3 separate regions of the Homo sapiens genome follow, and all the other regions are linked to region 1. The links come from fine-mapping of genetic effects on gene expression. A gene starts in region 1. Each other region holds a variant in brackets. All regions are shown on one strand. Distances are between the middles of the regions.

Region 1 (8,338 bases):
CCATAAGGTAACTGAAATTAAGTGGCTTCCCCAAGTTCATATAACAGATAAGACACATTCAAATCCAAGTCTTTCTGCCCCAGGTTCCATTCAGTATGCAGTATTCAGAATTAACTCAAGAAGAAGAAACTCACTGCCATTCAGAAACCAAACAAATTCTGGTTTAAAAATTACAGGAGAATGTAGTGGGCAGAGGGAGAGCAGCATTAAACCAGGTCAAAGGACCTGGCTTCTACTTATGGCTCTGTGCTATGACCTCAACTGCTACGACTTTGGGCAAGTAATTTCATTTATTTGGGTGTTAGTTTTCTTATCTATTAACAAAATGAACACAAGGTCCTTTTGAGTGAAAAAAAAAAAAACCACAAACAAACAAACATGGGTCTGCTTTAAGCATACAGATTCTACTGTTACTATATGTCAAGTAGATTTCAACTTGAATGTCAAGCCTAATAACAGGTAACGGCTCCTGGGGTACAATGTTGCAAAGGATTCTGAGCTATAGGGATCCACTAAGAAATTAGCACTGGCTTCCATGATCACAAGGAAGAAAAGAAAGTAAAAGCTGCATACCTGCCACACATCTGCCATCACTGAAAGAGTTTCACCTTGGCAAAGAAATGTTACCATCTTTTACGAATGCAGACAGTACTTCTGCACCACCGCTGATTCATCAGTACCTGCTCAGGATTTTCACTCATTCCTCACGCACTTAACTAAATTAAGGAATGAAAGTGCAAGAAAACTAAGTGGTTTGGAAAATACAGCTTGGTGCCACTAAAGAAAATATGTCTAAATGGCCTACATGAGGAGGGGGGAGGTAGTTTGGGGGAACAATAATAATCAGTCTGTTTTTTTAAAATACATACATATAGACTATGTGAGTAGGGTAACTCAGAAGCTACCCTACTTAGCTTGTGAGTTAAGTAGGGTATTATCACGTCCACTTTATAGAAATGGAAAACGAGAGTCAGACTTGCCCAAGTTCACCCATTTCTAAGTAGCAGAAGCGAGATTTGAACCCAAGGCCCAGGTCTCTTTCCAATCCCATCATCCTCACTAGTCCCACACTTCAAATGAGTTAACTAATCAAATTCCCATTGCAGAGTGACATATTCATTATTATTTGGAGTTGTTCGAATAATATAAGTTCCTCCCCCAAATAATCTGAAAAGTCGTTACTCTCCATTTGTAATTTAATGGGTAGACATGCATTTGAGTATATATAAATTTAGTAAAATTGAGCATAAAAGTTAAATGTTTAAAAGAATGATGCAGAAGCAATCAGCCTGTTGTTGGAAGGTAGGGACTGCAATAAAATTGCAGTTTCAATGCAATTTTATTCAACTTAATATAACCTCTACAACAATTCAGTGAGATGGAAATCTGGCATCAGGCATATATTTGAGGAATGGAATGGAAGAATAGAAATTGAACCAGATAAAACGCATCCTAGAAGTAACAGCAAATGCTTCAAGGAAGGCACTTACCAAAAGGCATACTATAACTTATTACATTTCATTAAGTCTGACAACCAGGGCTAAACCTGAATTAGAATATGTGCTTCTGGTATTTACCAGACTTTTCTCTATAAGGAATCCAGGCCAAACAAAATAACAGCCAAACTTTTGACATCTAATTGTAGTAAAAGCACAGGACATCCATCACTAGCTCTTCTAGTTAAACTTCCCACAAGAGAAGATGGGGAGTGGGGAACGGTTGCAAGAACAGGAGATAATACACAAAGCAATGACAACATAAAATCAAAATTGCTTAAAAGAATGTATGTTTCCTCTACGTCAGGGGGACAGTGTCCCTGAACAACACAGCCCATGAACTCACTTAAGGTGATGTGACACCTACTCACATCAATACATAGCAGAACTGCAAGTTGCATTGTCATGCGGTCCAACCCTGTGACATATGCACAAAGCTTTTCTCAAACATCTCTGAAAAGCAGTCATCACTCTGTTTAATCACTTCCAGTGACAGGGAACTCAGCACCCTATGGGACTGTTACTGTCCCTGAGGCCCATTAACTCAAAACTCAAACACATTTTCACCACTCAGGGAGAGGTGGAAGTGATCACAGGGCTCTCCAAAGGGCTTGCCAACCCAACTGTGCCTCCTGTCTCTACCATTCCCAAATCCCCCCTTTCCCTGAGCAGGACTCAAAATTAGCACAGTGTTAATAAATCAGTGGTTTCAGAGTTAGAAGGGACCCTTAAAAAGCCAATACTGTGATATTCATACCACAGTTCTACAAAAGGAATCTCAAGAAGTGCTTGGGCCAAACTGGGAGGGAGAGTGTCCTGTTTCTCTTCCTCTTATTTCAACCTAGGAAGCTCCCACTTTAATTTGTTACATATAGAGGACCAAGGTAGTTTTTTAAAAGGAGGAGGAGAAAAAAAGGACCATTTACAGGTAAATAAACTGAGGTCTTAAAACTTGCTTAATGAAATCATATAGCTAATAGTTGCAGGGTTCAGACAACAACCTCGTCTCTTGGCTCCTTCTCTGGTGCTTTCTCTACCAGATAACATCTGACCATCTACAGGGCAAAATTCAAACTCTGCAATGATACACAAAGCCCTTTAAGATCTCCGCGTCCAATTTTTATGAGAGTCCCACATTCCAGTCTCACTCAAATGTTTATTGAACCAACTTATGTCAGACTGTTACCTACCTCCACAGCTTAGCGCATACTATTCTCTTAGCCTGAGATGTCCTTCTGCACTGGAACCAACTAATCCTCTTTCAAGATTTGTTTTAGGCATCATCGCCTCTATAAAGCCTTTTCTGGTCCTCAGGTAGAACTGACCACATTCTTTTTGTGCCCTACACAACACCTGCAAGGCTTTATGGCACTTGTTTTATGTCTATGTCCGTCTACTCCACCACTGCTTTTACATCATATTACTCTAACACGAGGCTGGTCAGAAGGTAGGTGCTTCATAGACGGTCATCAATAGGGCGAGTGTATTCATCTGGTCCAATCCCCTTTCTAATGTTTAAGTATCCTCTGCTAACTGTCATTAATGCATGCATGACTACATTCATTCAAAAATATCTGAGTGTCTATACAGTGCCAAGTGTATGCCAAGCAGAGAAGGATTTACTGTGAAATTAATGAGGCTTAAGCTTTAGGGTCCCTCTCTTCAATCTTCCAAAGCTCTGAATCTTTCTTGGTGATTTTTATTTCTTGAAGAGGGCAGACAGAACTATATAAGCTGTAGGCCCCACAAAACCTAGATACCTCCTTGGTGTCACGAACACAAAAGGGAACAAGACAAACAGCTCTCCCCTTATGGAGTTTTCTGTTTAATGGGAAAGACAGCCATTTGTTCATTCACTCATTCAACAAACATTTACTAAGCAATGCTATGAGTCATGCATTCTGAGATGAAAACAACACTGTCCCTGCCCTTAAGGAAAAGGTTCCTGTTCCCAGGGAGATGAAGGGACACCTGCTCTGATCAGGGAACAGAAAGTAGTTGAGGTGACTGTAACACTGTGTTTGCGAAAGATTACCCTAAACCCGTCTCAAGAGGAACTGAGTCCTACTTATTGCAGAGACAAAGGGAAGAAAGAGTTCGGCTGAATACAGTTTTTAATCTCAACTAGGGGTGGGAGGCAGACAAGTAAATAGAACAGGCAAATATGGTGTGGTCAGTGCTGCAACAGGAAGCGAAGGACTGTCAGGAGGTTTCCCCTGAGTGCAAGTCTGTAGTGACGGCGAACTCATGACCTCACAAAGCCGCCCATGCACTTTCCAGATAGAGATTTCTGAGGATCTCCTTTCTTGTCCCCCAATCCCTGTCGCCGCAGGAGAAATCTGTTCCCCAATATGCGTCCCCCTTCCTCAAAATAAGGCTGTTCCTTCCCCCAAAAAGCTGTAGGGTCTCTGAGGCCAACTCTTCTGTCCCCCTTAGAGCCACCCCCTTCACACAATGCTTACGGGACGGGGTCTGGTTTGGGGCCCGGGGTCCCTGTCGCAGGACTGCCCCCTCCTCAACCCGCCGTTTCCATAGCAACCAGCTCACCACTTCGCGGGCCCGGCTGGAGAAGTCGCCCTTGGGCCGGGGGCTCCGGCGGAACAGCTCGTCCCGGCTGCCATCGACCCCGCCGCCCACCGCCACTCCCAGCGCCTTGTTCCGCGTCTTCACGGTCTTGACGCTGGCCCGGAATAGCAGCGTGATGTCCACCGCCATAGCGACCCGCACCCTCAGCCCCACACTAGGCCCGCCCACGTAAGCAGCCGGCGACCGCGGCGCGAACCCGGCCGCTGAAGGACTGGTCCTGCCCCACACGCCTCCCCCCGGCAACGGCGACGCGAGAAGAAAGGTTCCGGCCTGCGCCCTGCTACCGCGGCGGGAGGAAAAAGGTTCCGGCCTCAGCCGGCGCACCTGGCGGAGGAGGAACCTCGCGACGCGCTCTCGGGCATCGGTTTCTCCCAGCAAAGCTTGGAGGGTTTAGCTGCGCGGAGAGCTCAGCGAGCTCTTCTGTGTCTGTTTGGGGCGTGTGGGCTCCGGGAGCGTGAGGACCGGGAAGCTAGGAGGCTCCTTCCCTTCTGGCGGCTCCCTCACTGAGACCGGGCGGTTTGGTTGCGGGGGAAGTGGAGACGAGCCACCCTTGACCTTTGACTGCAAGAACTCACCTTGAGCAGGATAGAGGCACGTGGACGGTGACCCTCGGGATGCAATAAATGCTGAGACAGATCAGGTGTGCAAGGCACAGAGCTAGAGGCCAGAGGCCTTTCTTCTCCAACCTTCAGTCACCTCTTTTTAAAGTGAAGCCAGCATCCTCCTCGGGGTTTACTGTGAAAATTAAGTGAGCTGACGCGTGCTGTGTTTTGATGTTGCTTGGCTCCTAGTAAGTGGCCAATAAATGGTAGTAATCGTTAATAATGTTATTATTATAATCACTGTTATTTGTGGTAAAGGAAGAGGCTTTAGAGAAAAGGCGTCACCTGTGCAGAGATTTGAAGGATGAATAGGAAGTTTAGATGGAGACAAAGGTGAAAGAGTGGCCCTAATGCCGCTGGATTCTCTTCATCCTTCATGCATAGTTTTTAATTGTACCGTCTTGAGCCATAGCTATTAAAATTGACAACTCAATCAATGAGTTTCTTCTGCATTTTAGGTTCATGTTCTGTTTTGTGTTGTTTTTTGAGACGGGGGTCTACTATGTTGCCCAGGCTGGATTGCAGTGGCTAGTCAGAGGCGCCATCCTAGCTCACTACAGCTGGAACGCCAGGGCTCAAACGATCCTCCCGGACTCAGCCTCCTGAGTAGCTGGGACTATAGGCACGTGCAACCGTGCCTGGCCTATGGTTCAGTTTTAATTCAAAATCTCATTGATTTCTTCAAGATTTCTTTTTTCATAAAGAGGAAGCACAAGTAGAATATGTATTAAAACAGCAGTTTTAATGGTCATCAAGATAAAATTTTCACAATACTAAGATGTTATTTGCCTTTTCGCTCTGATTTTCTTATGAGTTGCATACAGTTGAGTTTGCTGGAGACTGTGATATTGCAACGGAGTAAATGCAGAACAGCTGTTTTCTATTAAGCCAGACTCCAAAAAAAGACTTTCAAAAACATCAAGTTTTTGTTTTGATTTCTCATATAGTAAATGTCGATAATGTCAATATAAACCAAAATTGTTTAGAGCCCTTAATAATTTTTAAGTGTGCAAAAGAGTTGAGACCAAAAGTTTGAGAACCACTGTGTTAAAAAAATAAAGTTTATCAGAAATAGATGTCAAGAAAGTATATATTTACCAGAAAGGAGGAAGGAAAAGATTTTTTTTTTCTTTGAGGCGGAGTCTTGCTCTGTCGCCCAGGCTGGAGCAAGCTCCGCCTCCCGGGTTCACGCCATTCTCCTGCCTCAGTCTCCCGAGTAGCTGGGACTACAGGCGCCCACCGCCACGCCTGGCTAATTCTTTTGTATTTTTAGTAGAGATGGGGTTTCACCGTGTTAGCCAGGATGGTCTCGATCTCCTGACCTCGTGATCCGCCTGCCTCAGCCTCCCAAAATGCTGGGATTACAGGCGTGAGCCACCGCGCCCGGCCAGGAAAAGATTATTTAAACCCAAACTGTAGCCACTTCTTGCAGTTTAAGGAAAATAAATTTCCATACAGCTTTCTTCCACCTACTGAGGAAAAGAGAAAGAAATTACAAAATCTCTGCCAATGATTCTATCTTGCATAAATGGCCCTTTGTTTAATCCAGACATTAATCAGTTTTTGGCCATGCAAAGTTAAGCCTGGGGTAGAGTAGAAGGAAAGAGAGATTGCCCTGCATAATAAAGTGAGGGGGATTGAATTGGGGGGAAGAAAAGAGAAGCCAGAACCCAGGGAGGGGGCCGGGAAAGTACAAAGTAGGTAACTGGGAAGGATCTTTGAGTGGGAGGGAGGCTGAACTACACCAAGCCTTCAGTGAGTGGTGCCTTGTGTAAACCGTGTGTTTGGTGCAGTTGGATATTTTGGGTAGAAGGGTAGGGACAAAGATCTAAGTTTTCTGTCTGGATTTGCAAGAGCAGAGAAGATTGTGGTGGATATAAGACCCAAGTGAGCTCAAAACATCAGGCTGTAAATCCACAAGTGACCACAAGTACATAAAATTCCTAAATAAGTCACAAAGATCTTGAGGAGGCTGCTGAACTTTCCACAGACCATGGGATATGGGGTTGTGCTTTTTACATTTTGTGTTTACTCTTTAATTTAAAAGAGCAAAGTGACTTCAGTTGACAGTTGACTAATATTAAGCCCCATAAAGCTGAGAGGGGATGTGGGTTAAAAGGATGTGCAGAAATGTTGTGAGAGTATACTACTGCAACTCCAGGGCTCAAACAATCCTCCCGGCTCAGCCTCCTGAGTATCTGGGACTATAGGCGCGTGCCACCATGCCTGGCCTGTTGGAGGTAGCACACAACTGCCCAGTTGGATGTAGTATACAAATTTTGTTTTCTTTATGCATTCAGCAAACATTGAGTGGGCCAGACACTGTTCTGAAAAATACGCAGTCGACTTTTGAACAGCACAGGCTTGAACTGCATGCGGCCACTAATACTCGGACTTCCTTCTGCCTCTGCCATCCCTAAGACAGCAAGACCCACCCCTCCTGCTCCTCAGCCTACTCGATGTGATGATGGTGAGTATGAAGACCTTTACTTTATGATGATCCACTTCCATTTAATGGATAGTAAATATATTTTCTCTTCCTATGATTTTCTTAATACCATTTTCTTTTCTCTAGCTTACTTTATTGAAAGAATACAGTATCTAATACATATGACATGCAAAATATGTGTTAACGGACTGTTTATGTTATTGATAAGGATTCTGGTCAACAGTAGGCTATTATTAGTTAAGATGTTAGGGAGTCAGAAGTTATACACAAATTTCCAACTGTGAGGGGTGGAGGAGTCATCAAGGATCAACTGTATTGGCACCCCTAAATATAGCTCACTACAGCAGCAACACCTATGCAAGGAGACTAGATGTAGGCTGCCAGTGAAAACCAACGTGTAATTTCTGGGCAGCAAATTTAAGAGCTAATGTATGATTCACGATGCTCTTTTCCCTCTGCTATGACAACCCTTAATGTTCCAATGTTCCATCAGCCTGAGTCCTTAAGTAAAGATGACATGGAGCATAGCCAACCAAGGACATTGTATTAGTCAGAGTTCTCTAGAGGGACAGAACTAATAGGATAGGTGTATATATAAAGGGGAGCTTATTAAGGAGTATTGACTCACATGATCACAAGGTGAGGTCCCACAATAGGCCATCTGCAAGCTGAGGAGCAAGGAGAGACAGTCCAAGTCCCAAAGCTGAAGAACTTGGAGTCTGATGTTCCAGGGCAGGAAGCATCCAGCACGGGAGAAAGATGTAGGCCAGAAGACTAAGCCAGTCTAGTCTTTCCATGTTCTTCTGCCTGCTTTTCTTCTGGCCATGCTGGCAGCTGATTAGATTGTACCCACCTAGATTGAGAGTGGGTCTGCCTTTCCCAGTTCACTGACTCAAACGTTAATCTCCTTTGGCAACACCCTCACAGACACACCCAGGAACAATACTTTGCATCCTTCAGTCAAGTTGACACTCAATATTAACCATCACAGACATGTACTAAGATTGAGAATTGTCCACAGATTTGTGGGTGTTTGTTAACTGCAGCATAATTAGCCTGTCCTGATTGATGACAACCCATATCTAGGTATCTACCAAAACAGGAATATTAGATGTATTCTCCACTCACCATCGTAACAGTATTATTCCTCAGTGAATGAAGCATGGAGAGGAAAGAACAGTTGTGCCTAAACCTAACCAATGGAA
Region 2 (8,338 bases), 390 kb before region 1:
TTAGTAGAGACAGGGTTTCACAGCCTGTTACCCAGGCTGGTCTCGAACTCCAGACTTCAGGTGATACAGCCACCTCAGCGTCTCAAAATGCTGGGATTACAGGCATGAGCCACTGCTCCCAGCCCACTCCCTGCTATTTTTAGTTCTATTTTTATTTTCATTTTTTGAGACGGAGTTTCGCTCTTGTTGCTTAGGCTGGATGGAGTGCCAAGGCCCCGTCTCGGCTAACTGCAACCTCTGCCTCCCAGTTCAAGCGATTCTCCTGCCTCAGCCTCCCGAGTAGCTGTGATTACAGCCATCTGCCACCACGCCCGGATAATTTTTGTATTTTTAGAAGAGACGAGGTTTCACCATGTCGGTCATGCTGGTTTCAAACTCCCTACCTCAGGCAATCCACTCGCCTCGGCCTCCCAAAGTGCTGGGATTACAGGCGTGAGCCACCGTGCCCAGCCTTTAGTTCTATTTTTAAAAAATGTTTAGCAACTGGGACTTGCTAGACCGAGCCACCATCTTTTGGGAGCAGAGCATGAGGAGCCTGCTCCCCTTCAGGCCATGAAGGGAGACAGACCCAACATCTGGACAACAGGGTACCAAACAGCCCACAGGATGGCTGTGATGCACCCACAAATCCCCTCAGAGATGGGCAAACTGAGACTGGCTGGAGGTGGGCCAGTAAGTGGGGTGCTGAGTTGGGGGCCACCCAGTGGGCTGCAGGAATGGGGCCTTGGCCCAGAGACTGGCTTGGGAAGGGGTGGCGTTTAGGAAGCTGTGCAGCCAGGGCAGGGGCTAAGGAAGTACCTGTCACTGGGCATGGGGCCCCCAACCCTGCCCAGTCTCACCTTCATGTGCAGGCTCGAGCCCAGGTACACGGGGAAGATGGCCACAGCCTGCCACCAGTGGTAGATGTGAAGATGAAGTCCTGTCTCTCCTTGTCTTCTTACAAGATTCCCAGGAGTGCTGCAGGCAGGCAGTGCAGGGCAGTCAGGGGATAGGTGTCACCTGGGGCCTGGGGATGCCTAGCTACCATCTATGAACTTTATTAAGCCCTGTATGTGTCCCAGCCCGGGACCAGAGAGCACCTAGAAAGTGCTGTGAGCCGGTCCTGGCCTGCCCCCTGGTGGAGACCCTGGTCACCACACTGCTCATACGCTAAGCAGAAGTAGGAGCAGGTGCGCCGGGCTGTGTGGATGCAGGTGGTCCCGCTCCGCACCACATGCGTGGCCTCAAAAGAAGAAAGCTCTGTGCTTAGTCATGTCCTGTCCCCAACCCCAGGTGTGCAGTGCCAAGCTTGCAGGCGCTGTTTCTCCTTCTCAGCCGGGACTAGAGAGATCGAACTGTTTGCAGCTGCCAACTCTGCAAATCAAACCTGAAGCTAAGCATGGAAAGGGGGGCTTCCCTTCCAGTGAGTCCTCCCAGGGTGGGCAACAAGAGTAATGGATTGGGAGTCAGAAGATGCACACTCGTTCTCAGGACTGTAATGTTGTCTCCGTGGGTGATTTGGGTACTTAACTCCCCAGAGCTGCTTTTCCCAATGGTGACATGAGCCTATGCCTATTGTGTGCTGTGTTCTGAAGTTCTAAAGTGAGAAAGTGGGCATGGCACCTGCCAAATCATAGGGGCCACTATTAACACCTTCACCAGGCACTCAGGACATGAACACTCCTGTCTTGGGGCCCTGCAGGGTGACTTTACCCCCACAGTGCTGCTATGAAGAGATAAGGATCCCCCAGGGTTCACCAGAGGAGATGGGATATGGAGCTGGGCAGAGGGGATGCCATGACCAGAGAGGGCACAACATGGGTCCAAGATACCCAGGATGGACTCGGCCCAGAATTGGCTATCCTTGGGCAAAACGGCCAAGAGACTGTGGTGCAGTATGAGGCTCCAGCCCCTGCTACAGACAGAGACACCGAGCCACCCTCTGCCCTGCCAGGAGCAGGCATGACCTCTGCCACTCCACACCCCCAAGGATGACGTTCAAACCTGTTCTTAGATTCGGCCCATCAGAACAGACACTGACATGGATGTCCCGCAGGACTGTGCCTATGTGTGCTAGCTGTGTGTCACTGCGTGTGCCCATCTGTGGGCAGGGAGCATCCTGGAGCTGAACATGGGCCCACCCGCTGCCTTCTGCAAACAGGGCCCTGTTCCCCAGCAGCCCAGACCTGGTGCCTGGACTCTGGTACTGAGCAGACTGGGTTGGGGCTGCAGGCCTGCTCCTCTCTATGCAAAGGCCCATGTCTGTATCTATGCCGTGGATGTACAACAGGCCACTTGCTCCTACCACATGCTCCGTGAGGCAGAGACCAAAACATCTGCTCCAAGTGTCACGAAAACTATGCCAGGTAAGCCCTGTCCCCTGGTATGAAAAGGGAGAATCCCTGATGTGTTTTTCACACTATCCCTAAGGGGTGTCCACAGAGCCCCACACCTGCCCCCTGTAGCCAAGAGATTTCACACTGACCCTCCAGTGTTGATGGGGCCCTGTGCCCGCCCTGGGGTATTAACGGAATGTCCATGGCGTGGAACCCCCACACCTGTCTCCAGGCTGTCCACGCCCTACCCATCTGCCCCCAGTGTGTCCATGAAACTTCCCTTCCACCCCCGGAGTGTCCACAGGAAGCCCCACCTGCCTCTGCCATGTCCACAGGACCCTATGTGACCATGGGACCCCATATCTGTCCCTGGGATGTCTATGTCTAGCCAACCACCCACAGATAGCCATAAAGCATCCTGCCCCGCCCCCCCCCCCCCCCAGTGCCCACAGCTATACTCACTGCTGAGTTCAGTCTTGTTCAGGGTGCTGCCCACGCCCCAAAGGGCAGCTGCCACACAGAGGATCCAGCTGTGTTGCAGGACCCGAGGCACAGGGGCCCAGAAAAAGAGGATGAAGGTGAGCAGCAGGTGCACCCCTGCTGCAGCCACGAGGGGCACTGGGCGTGGCAGCCACAGGCCCAGCAGGCCCAGGAGTGAGGCGGCTGAGGCGCCCAGGCTGTAAGCCACGAAGACGTAAGCCAGCCGCTCCAGCCCCACCGAGCACACGCCATAGCCCTGCGGGGGGACAAGGGGTGAGTGTTGAAGTCCGGAACAGCCCAGACCCCAGTCTCAGCCCTCCCCACATCGCGGGGGGTGCCTCACCCCCCTGCGATGGGGGTCCTAAGAGCCAGGGGGGAGAGGGGCTGGCTTGTACTCCCCGCATCGCGGGGGGTGCCTCACCTCCCTGCGATGGGGGTCCTAAGAGCCAGTGGGGGGAAGAGGGACTGGCTCTTACTCCCCGCATGGCCGGGGGTGCCTCAACCCCCTGCAATGGGGGTCCTAAGAGCCAGGAGGGGAAGAGGGGCTGGCTCTTATTCCCCGCATCGCGGGAAGTGTGTACAACCCCTGCGATATTGGCAGTAATATCATCCTCTCCGCCTGAACCTAAGAAACAATATCTCAGGAACATGTACACCCCCTGCGATATTGGAAGTAACATCATTTTCTCCCCCTCCGGATATTCGGAACAATATCACAGTGGGTGTGTACAGCCCCTGCGACATTGCCGCTAGTTTCTTCCTCTCCCTCCCAGGATAGAAGGAAGAATGTCACAAGGGGGTGTACACCCCCTGCGATATTGGGGGTAATATCCTCCTCTCCCCCGCTGCCTATTAGGAACAATGTTACACAAGGGGTGTACACCCCCTGCTATATTGGGAGTGATATCATCCTCTCTGTCCCTGGATATAAGGAACAATAACCCTAGGGAGTGTACACCTCCTGCAATATTCAGACTAATATCATCCTCTCGCCCCCTGGATATTAGGATCAATATCACAGGGGTGGTGAGCACCCCCGGCGAAATTGGAAGAAATATCCTCTCCACCTTTGGATGTTCGGAACAGTATCACGGGGGAGGTCTCCGCCCACTGCGATTTTGGGAGTCGTAACATCCGCTCCCACCCAGGATATTAGGAACAAGATGACCGAAGGGATGTACACCCACTGCGATATTTTCCATAATGTCATTCTCTACCCCCTGGCTATTAGGAGTAACATCGTAGAGGAGTGTAACGCTTTCTGCGATATTGGGAGTCATATCCTCTCCCCCACAGATATCAGGAACAGTTTTATTAATTATTAATATTAATAAATATAATAACAATTAATAGTAATCATTGATATTAATAACTACAGTGGAGACAGTAAACCTTAATGTGGATAAAAATATTAATGATTACAATTAATAATTAACAGCAATATCAATATTAATAATAAAATAATGATATCACTAATTAATGTTACTTAAATCCATCATAAGTGATGTTGGTAATAAAACAATGATTAATATTAATATTAATAACTAATATTAAAAATGACATTCATAGTAAGAATTAATTTTAATCATGCATAATCATATCTTTAAAATAATCATTAATGACTAATAAAATTATACTATTAATTAATATTACCATTGATAATCATTAATGAGACTGATGTTTAATAATTCATAGTATTATTACTCCTAATACAGCAGGGGGTGTACACCTACCTGCGATATTGTTCCTAATATCCAGGGATGGAGAGCATGATATTAGTTTTCATATCGCAATAGGTGTACACTCACCCTGTGACACTGATCCTAATATCCAGCGGGTGGAGTATGACATGACTGCCAACATAGCAATGAATGTACAGCCACCCGGTGATATTGCTCCTAATATTCACGGAAGAAGCATATGATATTACTCCCAGTATCGCAGGGAGTGTACACCTCTTCTGTGATATT[G/C]TTCCTAGTATCCCGAGGAGGAGAGGGTGATAATAATTCCAGCATCGCAGGCTGTGTTCACCCACCCTGTGATATTGTTATTAATATCCTGAAAGGGAGAGGATGATATTACTCTCCATAACAGATAGATATGACTCCCCATAATAGAGCAGGAGGTGTACACCCACCCTGTGATTTTCTTCCTCATATTCAGAGGCCGAGAGGTTGATATTACTCCCAATATCGCAGGAAGTGTACACCCCCGTGTGAGATGGTCCTTCGTAATATTCAAAGGCGTAGGGGGTGATATGACTACATATATCGCAGAAAGTGGACACCCCCCAGGGATATTGTTCCCATGATCCTGGAGGGAAGAGGATGACATTACTTTAAATATCACAGAAGGTGGACACGCCCCCACTGATATTGTCTCTAATTGCAACGTGGGAGAGGAGGATATGACACCGAATAACGCAGGGAGTAGAAATACCCCTGTGATACTGTTCTTAATATTCAGGGAGGAAGAGGATGATATTACTCCCAATACAGACGGGTGTACACCCGTCTGTGAAATAGATCACAATTTCCAGAGGGGAGATGATATTACTCACAATGTGGTAAACAGGCTGTGAGTCCACCGCCGATCCTAAAAACCACGGGGGGAAGAGGGGCAGGCTCTTACTCCCCGCATCGCGATGGGTGCCTCACCCCCCTGCGATGGGGGTCCTAAGAGACAAGGGGGGAAGAGGGGCTGGCTTTTACTATTCCTGAGGGAATAGTTTAGAGGGACTCATTCCCTGCTACCGTGGGTGAGATGTCTATGAAAAGGACAACCAGTGGGGGAGGGTAGCAAAATTTTGAAGTAGATTTCTGAGATCCCCAGCACAACCAGGAACAGAAACTCCACACTCTGCTGAGCGGATAGTTTGCACATTGGTCTCCTCCCATCTGCCCACCGCACTCTCCTGTTTGTCCTGAGGAGGAAACAAAACAAGGCTCCCAACCGTCCCTCAGCACTCACTTGAAGGTGTGGCCCGTCCCTCCACACCTGTGGGTATTTCTAGTCGGGTGGGATGAGAGACTGAGAAAAGAAATAAGACACAGAGACAAAGTATGGAGAAACAACAGTGAGCCTAGGGGACCGGCGCTCAGCATACGAAGGACCTGCACTGGCACAGGCCTCTGAGTTCCCTCTGTTTTTATTGATTATTATTTTTATTATTTTAGCAAAAAGGAATGTAGTAGGAGGGCAGGGTGATAATAAGGACAAGGTCAGCAACGAAGAGGTGAGCAATAGAATCTATGTCATAAGGAAGTTCAAGGGAAGGTACTATGACTGGACGTGTACGTAAGCCAGATTGATGTTTCTCTCCACCCAAACATCTCAGTGGAGTAAAGAATAACAAGGCAGCATTGCTGCAAACATGTCTCACCTCCAGCCATAGGGCAGTTTTACCCCCATCTCAGAATTGAACAAATGTATAATCGGGTTTTATACCGAGACATTCAGTTCCCAGGGGCAGGCAGGAGACAGTGGCCTTTCTCTCTCTCAACTGCAAGAGGCTTTCCTCTTTGACTAATCCACCTCAGCACAGACCCTTTACTGGTGTCGGGCTCGGGGACGGTCAGGTCTTTCTCCTCCCACGAGGCCACTTTTCAGACTATCACATGGGGAGAAATCTTGGACAATACCCCTCTTTCAAGGGCAGGGCTCCCTGTGGCTTTCCACAGTGTATTGTGCCCCTGGTTTATTGAGACTAGAAAATGGCGATGACTTTTACCAAGTATACTGCTTGGAAACATCTTGTTAACAAGGCACGTCCTGCACAGCCCTAGATCCCTTAAACCTTGATTTCATACAACACATGCTTTTGTGAGCTTCAGGTTGGGTCAAAGTGGCTGGGGCAAAGCTACACATTAACAACATCTCAGCAAAGCAATTGTTGAAAGTACAGGTCTTTCTCAAAATGGAGTCTCTTATGTCTTTCCTTTCTACATAGACACAGTAACAGTCTGATTGCTCTTTCTTTTGCCTACACTCACTGAACTGCCCTTCCCATCTGCTGGGCCATGACCACGGAGAACAGGTCCACTGTCCTCCCTGTGTGGTGCACCATGGAGGCTCAGACTCCGGCCTCAAGGCTGGCAAGAAGACAGGTTGAGACATGAGCCTCCTGATACTGGTGACGGGAGTGGAGCCCACAGGACTGGAACCTCACACTGCAGGGCTGGAGGCACAGACTGACTATTTACTATTCTGTGGCCTGGGGTGCTCAAGGCACAGAGCTCCTTATTAGCCAAAGTCACCCAAGTTCCCCAACCTCTAAAGATTTCCTCATAATAATGCAAGAAGAAGAAGAGAAAAGTGAGTGTCCATAGAAGCTTTGGGGCTCTTCCTCTAATCAGGAGAAAGCTGGTGTGTATTCTTCACTTCTTTCTTTTCTTTTTAAACATCCAACTGCTTTAATTTTCATCTTTTATTATGGGAAAATATACCACATATAAATATTAAAAATTATAAATATATATTAGTTTATATAGAATGGCCAGTATAAACATTTAGTTTCCACGCTTTTTCAGTTTACAGTTTCATGACATTAAGTACGTTCACATTGTTTAGCAACCATCACCGCCATCGTCTCCGGAACAGTTTTATCTTTCAAAATGGAAATTGCACCCTTTCACCAAGCTCTCCACTCCTCTCTCTCACCCACCCCTGGGGGACACCTTTCTAGTTTGCAACTCTATGAGTTTAACTACTCTAGACACTTGATAGATAAGTGGAATCATACCGTGTTTAATTTTTTTGTTTTGGAGACAGAGTCTTTCTCTGTCACCCCGGCTGGAGTGCAGTGGCGTGATGTCGCCTCACTGCAACCTCCACATCGTGGGTTCAAGCGATTCTTGTGTCTCAGTCTCCCGAGTAGCTGGGATTACAGGCGTGCGCTACCACGCCCAGCTAATTTTTGTATTTTTAATAGAGACCATATTGGCCAGGATGGTCTCGAACTCCTGATCTGAAGTGATCCGCCTGGCTCAGCCTCCCCAAGTGCTGGGGTTACAGGTGCGAGCCACAGAGACTGGGCGTGTTTATCCTTTTGGGATTTATTTATTTCACTGACGATAATGTTTTCAAGGTTCATCCATGTTGCGGCCTGCGTCAGAAGTGCCTCTCTGTTTTTTGTTTGTTTGTTTGTTTGTTTGCTCATTTGACTTTGTTTTGTTTTGTGTTTCCATGGAGTCTCACTCTGTCGCACAGGCTGGAGTGCAGCGCCACAATCTGGGCTCACTGCAACCTCCGCCTCCCGGGTTCCAGCCATTCTTGTGCCTCAGCCTCCCGAGTGCTTGGTACTATAGGCACACCCCACCACACTCGTCTGATTTTTTGCATTTTCAGTAGAGACAGGGTTTCACCAGGATGGCCAGGTTGATCTTGAATTCCTGACCTCAGGTGATCCACTCACCTCGGTCTTCCAAGACGCTGCGATTTTAGGCGTGAGCCACCGCATTGGCCAGAAGTGCCTGCCTTTTTAAGGCTGAATAGTCTTCCATTATATGAAGGAACTGCAGTGTGCTTTTTCATTCATCAGTCCA
Region 3 (8,338 bases), 42 kb after region 1:
ACTTCCACTCTTCTCACTTGTAACTATGCAATTTTCCTTAAGGTGACATTTGTGAAGGATTTATGTTGTCTGGGCACTATGCTGAGTGACTTCATTCTCACTTCACCCTAGGGAGTGGGAACTCTTAACTATCTCCACTTCATTGGTGAGAAAACTGAGCCTTTAGGATGTTTGCCTGCCCAAGGTCACCTAGTTAGTAAATGATGGAGTCAGGACATTACCTGACCTTGGCTGACTGACATCAAAGATCATTGTAGATGAACGCACAGTTGTAAGAAGTAATACAGAGAGATTTGTGTAACTCTTATCCAGTTTTCTCCAAAGGGAGCATCTTGCAAAACTGTACTACAATATCATAACAAAGATATTGACACTGATAAAATCCACCAGCCTTATTCAGATTTCCTCAGTTTTACTTGTCCTCATGTGAGTGTATTTAGTTCTTTGCAATTTTAACATGTATGTAGGTCCATGTATGTAGCGCCACAGTCAAGATACACAACAGCTCTGTCAGCACAGGCTTCTGCAGCCTTTAATAATCACATCTACTTCTCCATGTCACCCAGCATCCCTCATTCTTGTAACACTAAACCTGTTCTCTATCTCTATAATTTCATTATTTCGAGAATGTTCTGTAAGTGGAAGTATATGCTTCTGGGATTGGCTTTTTGACTCAGTCTAATTCTCTTGAGAGTCACTGAGTTATGGCATGCATCAGTAGTGTTTTGTTTTTTTTTTTAATTTTAACTGAGTGGTGTTCCATGGCATAGAAGTACCACAGTTTCTTTAACCATTTACCCACTGAAGAATATCTGTGTCCAGTTTCTGGCCATTATGAGAAATGCTGCTGTGAACATTCACGTACAGGTGTTTGTGCAAACAAAAGTTTTTACTTTTCTGGGAAAAATGTCCAAGGGTATAAAGTCCTTGCTTTTACTCCCAACGTTGTGTGGCCCTCTAGGTTGGTTGCAAAGATCTTTTTTAAAAAGAGCAATGTAAGTTGAGATCTTACTATATATTTGATACTATGGTAAGTACTTTGCATGGATCAACTCATAAGTCCACAAAACAACCTTAGGCTTAAGTACTGGTGATATCCCCATTTTGCAGATGAGGAAACTGAGGCGTAGAGAAGCTACATAGTCTAAGGACACACAGAGTGTAAACAGTTGAGCCAGGATTTGAGCTCAGGCTGCCTGACTCCAGATCTGGCTATTTAACCAGCCTATGAATGAAGTTTCTTGTTTTGGCGAGGGGCAAACTTCTTCTGAAAGTAGAACTTGTATCCAGCAATTTGCATAACTCAAGTGCCCAGCACTAAGAACTTTTACAAAATGATGAATATCCCCTTGGAACCACCACTCAGATCAAGATATGAAGCCTGATAGATGCCCTGAAGTCCCCCTCCTATGTGCCTCCTGTCATTATCCCCTAAGAAAGGGAACCGCTATTTGTACTGCAGTTGCTGTATATTAGTTTTGCTCATTTTTGGATTTTATATAAATGAAACCATAGAGTAAGCTGTCTTTTATATCTGGCTTCCTTCATTCAACAATGTGCGTGCAAGACTCCTCCCTGTAGCCGTGTATAGTAGTCATGTGCTCTTTCTTCTTGCTGCCCTGTATTCCATTGTATGGATATGCCACAGCTTGTTTATTTCTTCTCCAGTTGAATGGCATGTGGTTTGCTTCCGGTTTTGGCTATCATGATTTATGCTGCTATACACACATAAATATAAATATTTAGAGTTTTCCTAGTTATGTTATTATTGATTTCTAGCTTAATTTCACTATGATCAGAGAGTATAACTGTATGATGATAAACCTTTCAAACTCATTGAGATTGGCTGGGCATGGTGGCTCTCGCCTGTAATCCCAGCACTTTGAGAGGCCCAGGCAGGAGGATCACTTGAGCCCAGGAGTTTGAGACCAGTTTGAGCAACATAGTGAGACTCCATTTCTACAAAAAATTTAAAAAAAAATAGCTGGGCATGGTGATGCACATCTATGGTCCTGAGGTTGCGGGGATAGCTTGAGCCTCAGAGATTGAGGCTGCTGTGAGCCACGGTTGTGCCACTGCACTCTAGCCTGGGCAACAGAGTGAGACCCTGTCTCAAAAAAAAAAAAAAAAAGGGAATATGTAAACTGCAGCTGTTGGTTGCATTGCCTTTTTTTTTTTTTTTTTTTTTTTGAGACAGGGTCTCATTCTGTTGCCCAGACTAGAGTGCAACGACATGATCTCGGCTCACTGCAACCTCTGTCTCCTGGGTTCAAGTGATTCTCCTGCCTTAGCCTCCCCAGTAGCTGGGATTACAGGCACGTGCCGCCATACCTGGCTAATTTTTATATTATTAGTAGAGACAGTGTTTCACCATGTTGGCCAGGCTCGTCTCAAACTCCTGACCTCAGGTGATCCACCTGCCTCAGCCTCCCAAAGAGCTGGGATTATAGGTGTGAGCCACCGTGCTCGGCCAGCTCTATTTATTTTTATTGGCTCCAGTTCATTAATCATGTTAAAATCTTTTATATCTTTACTGAATTTCTCTCTGCTTTTTCTTTCAATAACTGAGAGATGTATTTTAAAATCTCCACTAGGATAATGGATTTGACTGTTTCTCCTTTTGTCCCACTTTCTTTGAGGCTATGTTTTTTGCTGCATGCAAATTTTAAATTATTATCTTATTAAATGACTTTTTGATATTATAAAATATCTCTAGTAACAAATCTTGCCTTACAGAATGTATTGTCTTTATATGTTATATAACTACATATGTATGTGTTATAATTATGTAGTGTTGTTATTAAGTATATGTTAATGTAGTTATGTATCAGCTTTTCCTGTCCTTTTAATTTCAGTTTTTCAGACTCCTTATCTTTAAGGTAAATGTTTCATATAATCACAATGTAATTGGGTTTTACTATTTTAGATATCTGATAATTTTTGGATTGCTAAAAAAATTTTGAAAATTATTCCATTTTCCCCACCCTGCTAACTTATTCGTTATGCATTCTGTATTATTCCTGTACCTGTTCCCGTAGAGCAGCGGTCCCCAATCTTTTCCGCACCAGGGACCAGTTTAATGGAAGACAATTTTTTTCATGGATCGGGGGCAGGGGAATGGTTTTGGGATGAAACTGTTCCAGCTCAGGTCATCAGGCATTGTTAGATTCTCATAAAGAGCCTGCAACCTAGATCCCTGGAATGTGCAGCTCACGATAGGGTTGGCGCTCCTATGAGAATCTAATGCAGCTGCTGATCTGACAGGAGGCGGAGCTCAGGCGGCAATGCTCGCTCACCCCTCACTCACCTCCTGCTGTGCGGCCTGGTTCCTAACAGGCCACAGACTGCTACCTGTCCATGGCCCAGAGGTTGGGAACCCCTGCCCTAGAGAGTAGAATACTCATTGTTGGCTTGTTACATTCTGTTTAGTTTTGGATGTTACCATGGCAAGTGTTGTTAGTACAACACCATTAGTCCATTTCTCTCCTTCTGCTTTTTGTGCTACGTTATCATGTATTTAATTCTACATATATTTTAATTTCCTGAGAACATTGTTACTTTTGGTTTAAGTTGTCAGAATTTACTTATATTTACCCATATACCAATATATTTACCATTCCCAGCACTCCTCATTTATTTCTACCTTTTCGTGTTTCTATCTTGAATCATTTCCTTTAATACTTCTTTTAGTGTTGGTCTACTGGCAATGCATTTTCAAAGTTTTTTCTTGCCTGAAGTATCTTCATTTTACCTTTATTTTATTTTTAATTGGTGTGATGGTTAATATTAGGTGTCAACTTGATTGGATTGAGGGATGCCTAGATAGCTGGTAAAGTATTGTTTGTGGGCGTGTCTGTGAGGGCGTTGCCAGAGGAGA[T/C]TGACATTCGAGTCAGCGGGCTGGGAGAGGCAGACCCACCCTCACTCTGGGTGGGCACCATCCCATCAGCTACCCAGACGGAGTTTTACTATGTTGGCCAGGCTGGTTTCGAATTCCTGACCTCAGGTTATCCACTTGCCTTGGCCTCCCAAAGTGCTGGGATTATAGGCATGAGCCACTGCGCCCAGCCCAGACTATATATTTTTATGTTTCATGCTAACAGTTTTCAGATCCTACCCACCTTTCTTCCCCTTTTACTCCACATCTGGGCTTTACCTTTGTGATCTAATCACCTCCCAAAGCCTTCACTTCCTAATACTATCACCTTGGGGCTTCGGTTTCAACACATGAATTTTGTGGGAGGACACAGACATTCAGAACCCAGCACCAAACAATGAATCACCACAATCTAGTCAAGTTGACACGTGCAATTCGCCACCAACTGCTCCATTTTTTCTCTCCTGTATTCTTGTGCCTCCAATTACATGTTGTTAAATATCTTCTACTTGGTCCCATATATATGTCTAATTTTCTGTATTTTTATCCTTTTTCTCTCTGCTTTAGTTTGAATATTTTTATATTTCTATTTTCTGGTTCACTTGTTCTCTCTTCTGATAGGTATACTGAGCTAACAATTAAAATTTTACTTTCTATTGTATATTTTTCAATTTTAGGATTTCCAATTGGCTATTTTTAAATAGATGCCAGTTTCTGGGGATTTTCTCCACCACTCTGCCTGTCTTTTGGCATTGTAATCATGGCTATTTTAAAGTTTATGTCTGGAAAGTTCAATACCTGGTTCTTCTGCTGTCTGTTTTTACTCTCCATTTTTCTCTTGATTTTCAGCATTTAATCATGTTGCCTGTCCTGCCTGGTAATTTTTTATTGCAGGCTGAAAATTGCATATGAAAAGTTATAGAGCTTATGGTTGGTGTTATATTCTTTCAGAAAGGGTTTAATTTTCTTCTTATTGGCACATAGAGTATGGCCAAATCATCTTTATCTAGTCACAGCTGGCCTGTTTCACATTTCCTCTTATTCTAACCCTTTTTAGGGTTTCGGTGGAAAGCTTGAGGTGTTTGTTGGGAGCCCTAATCCTTAACTTGCTGTGAACTCCAGTTTTTATTTCCCCAACCCCATGAGACTGCCATGTTCTCTGCTCATCTTTTAGCTTTAGAAGTTGCTTTATAGTGGGGTTCTCTGGGCCTCTTTCTGTGATTACACAGGATTTCTCTTGGGGAGAAATCATATACAGACTGTAGGACTCACTTCTCTGTGGTTCCCCGTCATCTGGTATCTAGTCCCTTATGTCATGGCCACTTTTTACTCCAAACTCTAATTTTTCCAGTCTGCAGCACAAAAGAGGGTCCTCATCAGAACCACACCATGCTGGCAACCTGATCTCAGCTTTCCATCTTCCAGACTTGTGAGAAATGAATTTCTGTTATCTATAAGCCAGCCAGTCTGTGATATTTTGTTATAGCAGCTTAAACTGATGAAGACCAAAACTGGTACCAAAAAGTGGGGGTGCCTCCTATAACAAATACCTAAAAATGTGGAAGCAGTTTTGGGTAATGGGTAGAAGCTGGAAGAGTTTTGAAGTGCCCACTAGGAGAGGTCAAAATTGTTAAGACTTTTGAAGTGCATACTAGGAAAGGTCAAAATTGTCACTAAAAACAAAAAACAAAAAACATAAAAACAGGATCTTGCTTTGTCACTCAGGCTGGAGAGCAGTGGTGCAATCATGGCTCACTGCAGCCTTGACTTCCTGGGCTCAAGTAATCCTACTGCCTCCGCCTCCCCAGTGGCTAGGGCTACTGATGTGTGCCATCACACCTGACTAATTTTTTTGATTTTTAGTAGATAGATGGTCTTGCTATGTTGCCCAGGCTGGTCTTCAACTCCTGAGCTCAACTATTCTCCTGCCTTGGCCTCTCAAAGTGCTGGAATTACAGCACTTTTGGCCACTGTGCCTGGCCAAAAGTACTTTTAAAGATGATTCAGAAAGGAAAGATGAGAGGTATTGAGAAAGCTTCTGTCTTCTTAGAGAATACATAAATAATCGTGTACAGAATGTTGGTGGAAATATGGCTAATAAAGGCCATTCTGATGAGGTGTCTGACAGGAATGAGGAACAAATTGTTAGACAATGGAAAAAAGGCAATCCTTGTTATAAAGTGGCAAAAAACCTTGGCTGAATTGTCTTTGCATTCTAGTATTTTTGTGGAAGATAAAACTCGTGAGCAGTGAAAGTGGATATTTAGCAGAGGAGATTTCTAAGCCAAGTGTTGAAGAAGTCACTGGCTTCCTTCTGACCACTTAAGGCAAAACATAAGAAGATGGAAATGGCTTGAAGATGGAATTATCGAGCAAAAGGAACTAGAACTTAAAGATGTGGAAAATTCTCAGCCTACTCATATTGCAAAAATGGAGAAAGTGTGTTTGGAAAATAACACTAAGGGTGTGGCTAACTGACCATTTGATATGGAGGTCAGTATAGGTGTGAACCATGGACTTAATCAACCAGCGGTTTCCCAGCAGGACAACTGTCAGTTTGAACTAAATAGGAAGGGGATGGTAAAGAATGAAGGAAAGTTGTTGGACTTTTTGGATTTTACAGGACAGGACTATAGAGCTATTCAGTTGTGAATGTGTGCTCTTGTTAAAGACAAGGGGAAGAATGAACCCAAGGGCAATGCAGAGGTCAGTAGGTTACCTTCTTAGTTTCAAAAGGAGGGACCATTGCCTTGCTTTCAACAGAAATGAGCTCCACCCAAAGCTGTTGGGGATACCACCTCCTGGCAGAGCCCTGGAGCTGCAAGTCCTGTCCAGCAGAGCTTTTTGGAGAAGACCACCTCCCAAGTGGGTCTGCAAGACTGTACCTCTGCCCCAGTGTGTCCAGTGGCCCTAGAGGGGAGAGCATCAAGCCACAGAGGATTATCTTCAGCCTGAAGACCTGGTGAAAGTTGTCTTGTGAGGTTTGGGACTCCCTTGGGATCTGTTAACCCTTCTTTCTTTTCTATTTCTCCGTGTCAGAATGGGAATGTCTATCTATGTCTGTCTCACCACTGTATTTTGAAAACATGTTTGGTTTCACATGTTTGCAGCTGTGAATTTTGCCTCAGAATGAATTGTACTCTGAGTCTCACCTTATCTGATTTAGATGATACTTAGATAAGAGTTTGGAGTTGATGATGCTAGAATGAGTTAAAACTTTGAGGGCTTTGGGGATGGAATGAATATATTTTACATGTGAGAAGGATATGATCTTTGCGGGGTTTGGAACAGAATGCAGTGGACTAATGTTCGTGTTACCTCCAAAATTTCTATATTGAAATCTTAATCCCAATATGATAGTATTTGGAAATCAGGCCTTTGGGAAGTGATTAGGTCATGAGGGTAGAGCCCTGATAAATGAGATTGATGCTTTTATAAGAAGAGGCCATTTCATATGGAACCAAAATAGATCCTGTATAGCCAAGACAATCTTAAGCAAAAAGAACAAAGCTGGAGGCCTCATGCTATCTGACTTCAAACTATACTACAAAGCTACAGTATCCAAAGCAGCATGGTATTGGTACCAAAACAGACATATAGGCCAATGGAACAGAACAGAGGCCTCAAAAGGAACATCACACATCTACAACCATCTGTTCTTTGACAAGTCTGACAAAAACAAGCAATGGAGAAAGGACCTCCTATTTAATACATGGTACTGGGAAAACTGGCTAGCCATATGCAGAAAATTGAAACTGGACCCCTTCCTTAAACCTTCTACAAAAATTAACTCAAGATGGATTAACGATTTAAATGTAAAACCCAAAACCATAAAAACCCTAGAAGAAAACCTAGGCAATCATAGGGATGGGCAAAGACTTCGTGAGGAAAACGCCAAAAGCAATTGCAACAAAAGCCAGAATTGATAAATGGGATCTAATTAATCTAAAGAGCTTTTGCACAACAAAAGAAACTAGCATCAGAGTGAACAGGCAACCTACAGAATGGGAGAAAATGTTTGCAATCTACCCATCTGACAAATGTCTAATATCCAGAATTTACAAGAAACTTAAACAAATTTACAAGAAAAAACAAACAACCCCATCAAAAAGTGGGCAAAGGATATGAACAGACACTTCTCAAAAGAAGACATTTATGAGCCAGCAAACACATGAAAAGAAGTTCAACATCACTGATAGTTAGAGAACTGCAAACTAAAACGACAGTGAGATACCATCTCATGCCAGTTGGAATGGCAATTATTAAAAAGTCAGGAAACAATAGATGCTGGTGAGGCTGTTGGTGGGAATGTAAATTAGTTCAACCATTGTGGAAGACAGTGTGGCAATTCCTCAGGATATAGAACCAGAAATACCATTTGACCTAGCAATCCCATTACTGGGTATATATGCCAAAAGGAATATAAATCATTCTACTATAAAGACACATGCACATGTATGTTTA

Which allele goes with the higher level. Positions count from the first base shown, and alleles are read on the strand shown. Sizes are in standard deviations (SD) of each study's normalised expression. Not every link is listed here.
As copies of C replace G in region 2, the expression in esophagus mucosa of the gene that starts at base 4,378 in region 1 goes down (moderate effect, 0.49 SD a copy in GTEx).

The links.
Region 2: its variant is fine-mapped to the expression of STX18-AS1 in esophagus mucosa (GTEx, PIP 0.98).
Region 3: its variant is fine-mapped to the expression of STX18-AS1 in whole blood (INTERVAL, PIP 0.97). The same link has a PIP of 0.9 or more in prefrontal cortex.

What each region holds. Positions count from the first base shown.
Region 1 is chr4:4,537,754-4,546,091 of GRCh38, forward strand. STX18-AS1 (STX18 antisense RNA 1 (head to head)) reads left to right here and starts at 4,378. Exons shown (of 6, transcript NR_037888.1): 1 at 4,378-4,722; 2 at 6,985-7,154. STX18 (syntaxin 18) reads right to left here and starts at 4,295. Exons shown (of 11, transcript NM_016930.4): 1 at 4,044-4,295. The coding sequence starts at 4,211. LOC124900165 reads left to right here and starts at 4,378. Exons shown (of 6, transcript XM_047416490.1): 1 at 4,378-4,722; 2 at 6,985-7,154. RefSeq lists enhancers at 4,165-4,444, 4,169-4,463.
Region 2 is chr4:4,144,744-4,153,081 of GRCh38, forward strand. It overlaps the pseudogene UNC93B4. Among named protein-coding and RNA genes, the nearest start is that of OTOP1, 78 kb to the right of the region's middle. The variant G/C (reference allele first, on the strand shown) is at 4,766.
Region 3 is chr4:4,579,550-4,587,887 of GRCh38, forward strand. All of the region lies in intron 2 of LOC124900165, which reads left to right. All of the region lies in intron 2 of STX18-AS1 (STX18 antisense RNA 1 (head to head)), which reads left to right. Among named protein-coding and RNA genes, the nearest start is that of LINC03091, 7.8 kb to the left of the region's middle. RefSeq lists an enhancer at 2,798-3,298. The variant T/C (reference allele first, on the strand shown) is at 3,878.